2 separate regions of the Homo sapiens genome follow, and region 1 is reported to be linked to region 2. Evidence: microRNA targets listed by miRTarBase, many of them from high-throughput screens and not tested one by one. Region 2 holds a microRNA gene; the other region holds the end of a gene's coding sequence.
Evidence for each region. Region 2 holds the annotated microRNA hsa-miR-6722-5p (AGGCGCACCCGACCACAUGC, at 2,005-2,024, shown strand). A microRNA usually pairs through its seed, bases 2 to 8, with sites in the 3' UTR of a target mRNA and lowers its output. Matches are read on the target gene's strand: a 7mer-m8 pairs with bases 2 to 8, a 7mer-A1 pairs with bases 2 to 7 and ends in A, and an 8mer does both.

Region 1: the mRNA of TMIGD2 is a reported target of hsa-miR-6722-5p. Seed matches in the 3' UTR shown: 7mer-A1 at 785-791.

The regions. Positions count from the first base shown.
Region 1 is chr19:4,289,190-4,293,189 of GRCh38, reverse strand. TMIGD2 (transmembrane and immunoglobulin domain containing 2) reads left to right here. Exons shown (of 5, transcript NM_001169126.2): 5 at 305-963. The coding sequence ends at 591. It overlaps SHD (Src homology 2 domain containing transforming protein D), which reads right to left. Exons shown (of 6, transcript NM_020209.4): 6 at 2,468-2,743. The coding sequence ends at 2,557. Among named protein-coding and RNA genes, the nearest start is that of TMIGD2, 11 kb to the left of the region's middle.
Region 2 is chr9:136,744,826-136,748,964 of GRCh38, reverse strand. It overlaps MIR6722 (microRNA 6722), which reads left to right and starts at 1,995; the gene lies at 1,995-2,072. LCN6 (lipocalin 6) reads left to right here and starts at 440. Exons shown (of 7, transcript NM_198946.3): 1 at 440-571; 2 at 1,402-1,541; 3 at 3,051-3,121; 4 at 3,685-3,795. The coding sequence starts at 482. LOC100128593 (a long non-coding RNA gene) reads right to left here and starts at 2,804. Exons shown (of 3, transcript NR_033913.1): 1 at 2,764-2,804; 2 at 393-1,887; 3 at 1-219.

The DNA of each region.
Region 1 (4,000 bases), not on the chromosome of region 2:
GGAGATCAAGACCATCCTGGCTAACAGTGAAACCCCGTCTCTACTAAAAATACAAAAAATCAGCCAGGCATGGTGGCGGGAGCCTGTAGTCCCAGCTAGTTGGGAGGCTGAGGCAGGAGAATGGCGTGAACCCAGGAGGCGAAGCTTGCAGTGAGCCGAGATTGCGCCACTGCACTCCAGCCTGGGCGACAGAGTGAGACTCCGTCTCACAGAAAAAAAAAAAAAGAGACAGATCCCCCAGAGGTCAGCTGGAGAGGGCAGGACTCTCTTAAGTGATCCTCTTGGTCTGTGTCATCCATCCTAGGAAATGCATTCTACAGCAACGTCCTATACCGGCCCCGGGGGGCCCCAAAGAAGAGTGAGGACTGCTCTGGAGAGGGGAAGGACCAGAGGGGCCAGAGCATTTATTCAACCTCCTTCCCGCAACCGGCCCCCCGCCAGCCGCACCTGGCGTCAAGACCCTGCCCCAGCCCGAGACCCTGCCCCAGCCCCAGGCCCGGCCACCCCGTCTCTATGGTCAGGGTCTCTCCTAGACCAAGCCCCACCCAGCAGCCGAGGCCAAAAGGGTTCCCCAAAGTGGGAGAGGAGTGAGAGATCCCAGGAGACCTCAACAGGACCCCACCCATAGGTACACACAAAAAAGGGGGGATCGAGGCCAGACACGGTGGCTCACGCCTGTAATCCCAGCAGTTTGGGAAGCCGAGGCGGGTGGAACACTTGAGGTCAGGGGTTTGAGACCAGCCTGGCTTGAACCTGGGAGGCGGAGGTTGCAGTGAGCCGAGATTGCGCCACTGCACTCCAGCCTGGGCGACAGAGTGAGACTCCGTCTCAAAAAAAACAAAAAGCAGGAGGATTGGGAGCCTGTCAGCCCCATCCTGAGACCCCGTCCTCATTTCTGTAATGATGGATCTCGCTCCCACTTTCCCCCAAGAACCTAATAAAGGCTTGTGAAGAAAAAGCAAAGCTGGTGTTTGTGGCGATTTGGGAGTGCTAAAAAGATCTGAAGAAATCGGGTGCGGTGGCTCACGCCTCTAATCCCAGCACTTTGGGAGGCTGCGGTGGAAGGATCACTTGAAGCCAAGAGTTTGAGACCAGCCTGGGCAATAGAGCAAGAAGACTCCATTTCTACAGAAAATTTAAAAACAAGGCCAGACGCGGTGGCTTGCGCCTGTAATCCCAACACTTTGGGAGGCCGAGGTGGGCGGATCACCTGAGGTCAGGAGTTCGAGACCAGCCTGGCCAACATGGTGAAACTCCGTCTCTACGAAAAATACAAAATTTAGCCGGGCGTGATGGTGCAGCTGATGTCTCTGGTCTCAGATATTTGGGAGGCTGAGAGGGGAGGACCACTTCAGCCCTGGAGGTTGAGGTTGCAGTGAGCTCTAATTATGTCACTGCCCTCCAGCCTAGGTGGTAGAGTGAGACCCTGTCACATACACGCACCAAAAAGACTTAAGGGGTCATCTGGGGTCCCAGAGCTCTCAGGGGTGGCTGGAGAGGCCCACTGTGGCCAAGGGACTTTGTGGCAACTCAAAGCCCCCCTCCCACCTTATAGGGACAAATCCAAGGAGGAAGAAGTGGTACTCTGGCTTCCAAACAGTCCCCTGCCATGGAAGACCCCCCCCGCAGCTGGCATCACTCCCAGGCAGGCCTGGAGGTGGGGAGAAGAAGGGGAGGTCAGGAGATTCATGGTGTTTACCAGCCCCCCAGGTCTCCTGCCTGCCTGGCCTGTCACCTTGAAGTGACACCAGCTAGGCCCAGCTCCCCTCCCCTACTTCTGCTGTTTCCATGGGGACAGATGTCCTTTCTGCAGATCAAGCCACTGCTGCCGGGGGGAGGGAGCGGGGCTGGCCCGAGAGCCTGGCCCCCCTCAGTTTCTCCATCTTTGTATCTGTCGGTTTCTATGGAGTGCGGTTTTTAATCTGCTCCACGACGCTCTGTCTCTTGCTGAGTTCTGGTCCCTCCCTATGGGAGATTCAGGTTCCAATCCCAACTCTGTCCCCAAAACAAAGTGCTGGGGATGTGCTTGGCCCTCAAGGCCTCGAGGGTTTTTTATGTTTGTTTGTTCTGAGATGGAGGCGTTTCACTCTTGTTCCCCAGACTGGAGTGTAATGGTGCGATCTCAGCCCACTGCAATCTCCGCCTCCTGGGTTCAAACGATTCTCCTGCCTCAGCCTCCCGAGTATCTGGGATTAGACGCATGCGCCACCACGCCCGGTTAATTTTGTATTTTTAGTAGAGACGCGGTTTCTCCGTGTTGGTCAGGATGGTCTCGAACTCCCAACCTCAGGTGATCTGCCTGCCTCAACCTCCCAAAGTGCTGGGATTACAGGCGTGAGCCACCGTGCCTGGCCTCCTCCAGGGTTTCAATTACCCCATTATCCCCCTCTCCAGGGCTGCTTAGGGCTTTCCCGCTGGGAGTCAACGATCCCACTTCCCTCTGTAGCCCAGAAAGGACACTAAGACAAACAATAACTTATTTATTTTCTAGGCCATGGGAGGGCTTTGGGATACGATTCTGGGCCCGAGGACTCAAAAGGGGGCCGAGGGTCACTGTCAGGGGGTCTGCGTGACCACGGGGTACAGCAGAGCCAGATGCTCGGCACCCTGCACCGGCAGTGGGCGTGAACTGTAGTGGAGGACGAGCTCGGGCACGCTGGGGAAGGGCCCGCTGTGTTGGCCCAGCACCACCTGGTTCTCACGGGTCCGCGCGAACTTCAGATGCAGGAAGCCCTGGCTGCTCCTGGGCGATGAGGGAGAAAGGGACTCCTGAGCATCCCGGACCCACCCAGAAAGGCACCATCCCCAAAGCCACCTCCCACAGTGCCCAGGCCAGGTGCTCGTGTGTCTCCAGTCTCTGGTAAACAGCAGTGTGGTGGCTGGTATACTCGCTCACACCTGTAATCCCAGTGATATGGGAAGCTGAGGCTGTAGGCTTACTCCAGGCCAGGCGTTAGAGACCAGCCTGGCCAACAGAGTGAGACCCCGTCTCCACCAAAAAACATTTAAAAATTAGGCGGGTGCGGTGGCTCACGCCTGTAATCCCAGCACTTTGGGAGGCCGAGTCAGGCAGATCACTTGAGGTTACGAGTTTGAGACCAGCCTGGCCAACATGGTGAAACCCCATCTCCACTAAAAATACAAAAATTAGCCGGGCGTGGTGGCGGGTGCCTGTGGTCCCAGCTACTCAAGAGGCTGAGGCATGAGAATCCCTTGAACCTGGGAGGCAGAGGCTGCAGTGAGCTGATATTGTGCCACTGCACCCCAGCCTGGGTGACAGAGTGAGACTCTGTCTCAAAATAATAATAATAAAAAAATAGGCTGGGCGCGGTGGCTCACGCCTGTAATCACAGCACTTTGGGAGGCCAAGGCAGGCGGATCACGAGGTCAGGAGATGGAGACCATCCTGGCTAACACGGTGAAACCCCGTGTCTACTAAAAAATACAAAAAATTAGCTGGGTGTGGTGGTGGGCGCCTGTAGTCCCAGCTACTCGGGAGGCTGAGGCAGGAGAATGGCGTGAACCCGGGAGGCGGAGCTTGCAGTGAGCCGAGATCGTGCCACTATACTCCAGCCTAGGCGACAGAGCGAGACTCTGTCTCAAAAAATAAATAAATAAATAAATAAATAATAATAATAATAAGAGGCCAGGTGCAGTGACCCACACCTGCAATCCCAGCACTTTGGGAGGCCGAGTCAGGCGGATTGCTTGAGGCCAGGAGTTTGAGACCAGCCTGGCCAACATGGCGAAACCCTGTCTGTACTAAGAATACAAAAATTAGCCGGGCATGGCGGCTCACACCTGTAATCCCAGCACTTTGGGAGGCTGAGGCGGGCGGATCACGAGGTCAGGAGATCGAGACCATCCTGGCTAACACAGTGAAACCCCGTCTCTACTAAAAATACAAAAAAATTAGCCGGGCGTGGTGGTGGGCGCCTGTAGTCCCAGCTACTCGGGAGGCTGAGGCAGGAGAATGGCGTGAACCCGGGAGGCAGAGCTT
Region 2 (4,139 bases):
TTTTATATTTAATGATTGAAACAAAAGATATCCAAAACCGCAGTTCCTGAGAACCACTTGTTCTCGCCCTGGTTCCTCTCCTTGGGCTTGACCTTGGCCTCCTGCCGGGCCTGGCAGCGGACAGCAGTCTCCCTGCTTCCCAGGCTGGGCGAGGGAGAGCGTGGGTCCCCAGGAACGGGGGAGGTGGTGCGGCTGGCTTTAGGATGCCCATTCTGGAACCTTCTGGTGGAAGAAAGCAGGGGATCAGTATAGTATGGTTGATCCACACACTCCAGACCCTCTCCTGGCTGTGCAGCTGGTCTGATCTGGGCTCAGAGGCTGCCACTGCTCAGTGCTCCCCTGGGTAATTTTGCAGGAGGCCAGGAGGGTTCCTGGCAGTTAGTGCCACCCACACGGAGAAATTCAGAGCCATATAAACGGGTCTCCAGGGCCTGGAGGGACTGCACATCCTGGGCCTGCGGCGCAGTGTAGACCTGGGAGGATGGGCGGCCTGCTGCTGGCTGCTTTTCTGGCTTTGGTCTCGGTGCCCAGGGCCCAGGCCGTGTGGTTGGGAAGACTGGACCCTGAGCAGGTACAGTCCTCCTGGGGGTGGGGAGAGCTGGTCCTCGGGGGCCAGCCCCTCCTTTAAGGCCACACAGCTTCTGGGCCCCCCAGGGCTAGCCCAGACCAGCATGAGCAGTGGGGAATTAGTTGGGCCAGCCCTTGGGGAGTCCCACAGGCAGGAGCCTCAGGGCAGGAGGGGTGGATGCTGGAGGGTTGGAGGCTGGAGGGCTGGAGAATTGGAGGCTGGAGACTGGAGGTTGCAGGGCTGGAGGGTGTAGGGTTGGAGAACTGGAGGCTGGAGGGCTGGAGGCTGTAGGGCTGGAGAACTGGAGGCTGGAGGCTGCTGGGCTGGAGGCTGGAGGGCTGTAGAACTGGAGGCTGGAGGGCTGGAGGCTGGAGGGCTGCAGAACTGGAGGCTGGAGGGCTGGAGAGCTGGAGACTAGAGGCTGCAGGGCTGCAGGCTGGAGGTTGGAAGGCTGGAGGGCTGGAGCCTAGAGGCTGTAGGGCTGGAAGGCTGGAGGCTGGAGGGTTGGAGGTCTGGGGGGTTGGAAGCTGGAGGCTGGAGGGCTGGAGAACTGAAGGCTAGAGGCTGCAAGGCTGGAAGGTTGGAGGCTGGAGGGCGGGAGGGTTGGAGACTGGAGGCTGGAGGGCTGGATGGTTGGAGGGTGGAGGCTGGAGGCTGCAGGGCTGGAAGGCTGGAGGCTGGAGGGTTGGAGGCTGGAGGCTGGAGGGCTGGATGGTTGGAGGGTGGAGGCTGAGGCTGGAGGTTTGGAGGCTGGAGGCTGAGGCTGGAGGGTTGGAGGCTGGAGGCTGGAGGCTGGAGGGCTGGCGGCCCTAACGGGAGCCGCCTCAATGCAGCTTCTTGGGCCCTGGTACGTGCTTGCGGTGGCCTCCCGGGAAAAGGGCTTTGCCATGGAGAAGGACATGAAGAACGTCGTGGGGGTGGTGGTGACCCTCACTCCAGAAAACAACCTGCGGACGCTGTCCTCTCAGCACGGGTGAGTGGGCGGGTCCTGCCAGGCCTTCCCGCAGGCAGGACTGTGGCTCAGCCACATCATGTACTTTGCACATCTGCTCCCGGGCACCGCGGCCTGGGGGCTTCCCACGGCCCCTCTGCACCCCCGTCACTTTTCCCACTGGGCTCTGTGCAGAGCCACCAGCCCTCTGCCCAGCTACTCACATCTGTGTCCCTGGGGCCTCCAGGTGGCACTCCCACCTTCAATACCGCGGCGGGCACTGCTCTGACTATGCTCCTTCATGCATCCCTGTCCTGGGTCATCTGGGCTGCAGGCTGTGGTCAGAGCTGGGGAAGCCTGTCCTCTCAGCAGGCCTTTTTCGGGAATTCTGTTTAAAGGAGGATAATGCATTCGGACCTAAGAACCACTGGTTCTTTCATAACATAAATCCCCAAACAATATGGTCATGGACGCTGTTGGCCAGACTGGCCTTGTGGCCTCAGGCAGGCGCACCCGACCACATGCATGGCTGGTGGCGGCGTGCAGGGGTCGGGTGGGCCAGGCTGTGGGGCGGCCGTGCTACACAGGGGACACCTACAGGGCAGCCGGGCTGTGGGGGTAGCCGTGCTGGGGCAGGAGTCGGTGCCCGCCTCCCTTCACAGAAGAGTGGCCTGCTGGGTGGCGTGGTGGGTGTCTACCCCCTGGCAGGCTGGCGACAGAGCCCAGGCCTGAACCACTGAGCCAGGTACGGGGCCCAGAGAGAAGAACCTGCCCTCCTCACCAGCGTGCCTTCCCCCTGCACCTGCGCCTGCAGGGTATGGGCAGGGGCCCCACTGCACCCCCCGGGCCAGGCCTGGCCTCAGGGCGAGCTGGGACCAAGGGGCTCCAGGCTGAGGTGGCAGCTCCCACGTGGCTTTCCTAGTTCTTCTTGCTGTTCCTCCCGCATGGACTCAGCCTCAGTTTCCTTCCTTGGCAAACACCATTGCACCTTTGCTGGGTTTTGCTCACTCTGGGGACTGACCACTTAGGGAGCGCCGGCCCCTTCCCCCGAGTCGCAGGCAAACCCCCACCCCGCCCCATCCTTCCCCTGAGTCGCAGGCGAACCCCCACCCCACCCCATCCTTCCCCTGAGTCACGGGCGAACCCCCACCCCGCCCCATCCTTCCCCTGAGTTGCGGGCGAACCCCCACCCCGCCCCATCCTTCCCCTGAGTCACGGGCGAACCCCCACCCCACCCCATCTTTCCCCCGAGTCGCGGGCGAACCTCCCGTCTGTCGAGTCTCCTGTTGTGTCCTCAGCAGCATTCAGCGTTCCTGGTGGAGATCTGGCACTGAGGATCTCTCAGGAAGTGAATGGGAGTGTCCGCCCCTCTCAGGACTCCCACGCCGTCCACTCTCCGAGAACAGGTTTCCGGGCATCGGGGCATCTGGCAGAAGATGGAAGCTCTGGCCTCACTGCTGGCTGGCCTGGCCTGGACTCCTGAGCTCCGTCTCCTCTCACCGGGCCCCGGGGTCTTGACCCTGAGTGGGTGACAGGCCCCTTCTTTTCCAGGCTGGGAGGGTGTGACCAGAGTGTCATGGACCTGATAAAGCGAAACTCCGGATGGGTGTTTGAGAATCCCTGTGAGTCTGACGGCCACGGCCTCACCCAGGCCGTTCTTCCCTGCAGCATCCCCAGGCCCCCTGCGGGCAGGGACGGAGGGCTGACTCCGCTCCCGAGAGCCAGGAGGCTACAGGTTCTGGTCTTGGGATTGCTGCCCATCCTGAGGGTGAAGAGAAGCCCCTGGACAGAGGATTGGAACCTTGTTCCCAGCAGGCTCAGACACCAGTGAGGTCCAGCCAAGGTCCCCATAGGTGCAGAGGGCGAGGGGCCTGTTTAGTGGCTGTCTACAGGTACAGGGCTGGGCTGGTGTGACCCAGCCGCTCCTCGTTCACACCTGGGACAGGCTGGGGCAGTGCTTGTCTGTCTGTCCGTCAGTGTCTGAAAGCCCCTTGATGCTGGCACCAGGTGGGGTCGGGGGTGGGGGACAAAGCTTGGGGGCTCTGGGTGTGCTTGGAGGGGTCTCCTGGGGAGGGGGGCTCTCACTTGAATTGGCCCCTCTGTCCCTGTGGCCAGCATCAGCTCAGCGGCCCCTGGATGGATACAGCAGCTGCCCTCCCCTGAGGCGGGGGGTTTTGTTTCCTAGCAATAGGCGTGCTGGAGCTCTGGGTGCTGGCCACCAACTTCAGAGACTATGCCATCATCTTCACTCAGCTGGAGTTCGGGGACGAGCCCTTCAACACCGTGGAGCTGTACAGTAAGTGTGCTGTGCGGGGCCCACGTAGGGAGCTGTGTGGTGCGTGGGCCACTCGGGGCCCACGTTGGGAGCTGTGTGGTGCGTGGGCCGCTTGGGGGCCGCGTGGGGAGCTGTGTGGTGAGTGGGCCGCTCGGGGGCCATGTGGGGAGCTGTGTGGTGAGTGGGCCGCTTGGGGCCACATGGGGAGCTGTGTGGTGAGTGGGCCGCTCGGGGGCCATGTGGGGAGCTGTGTGGTGGGTGGGCCGCACAGGACCACATGCAGGCCAAGTTCCCCCACCTTGAGGCTCGCTGCACTGGAGGTGGCTTTGGAAGGACCGGGGCCAGCATCCCAGGGCAGGTGGCCT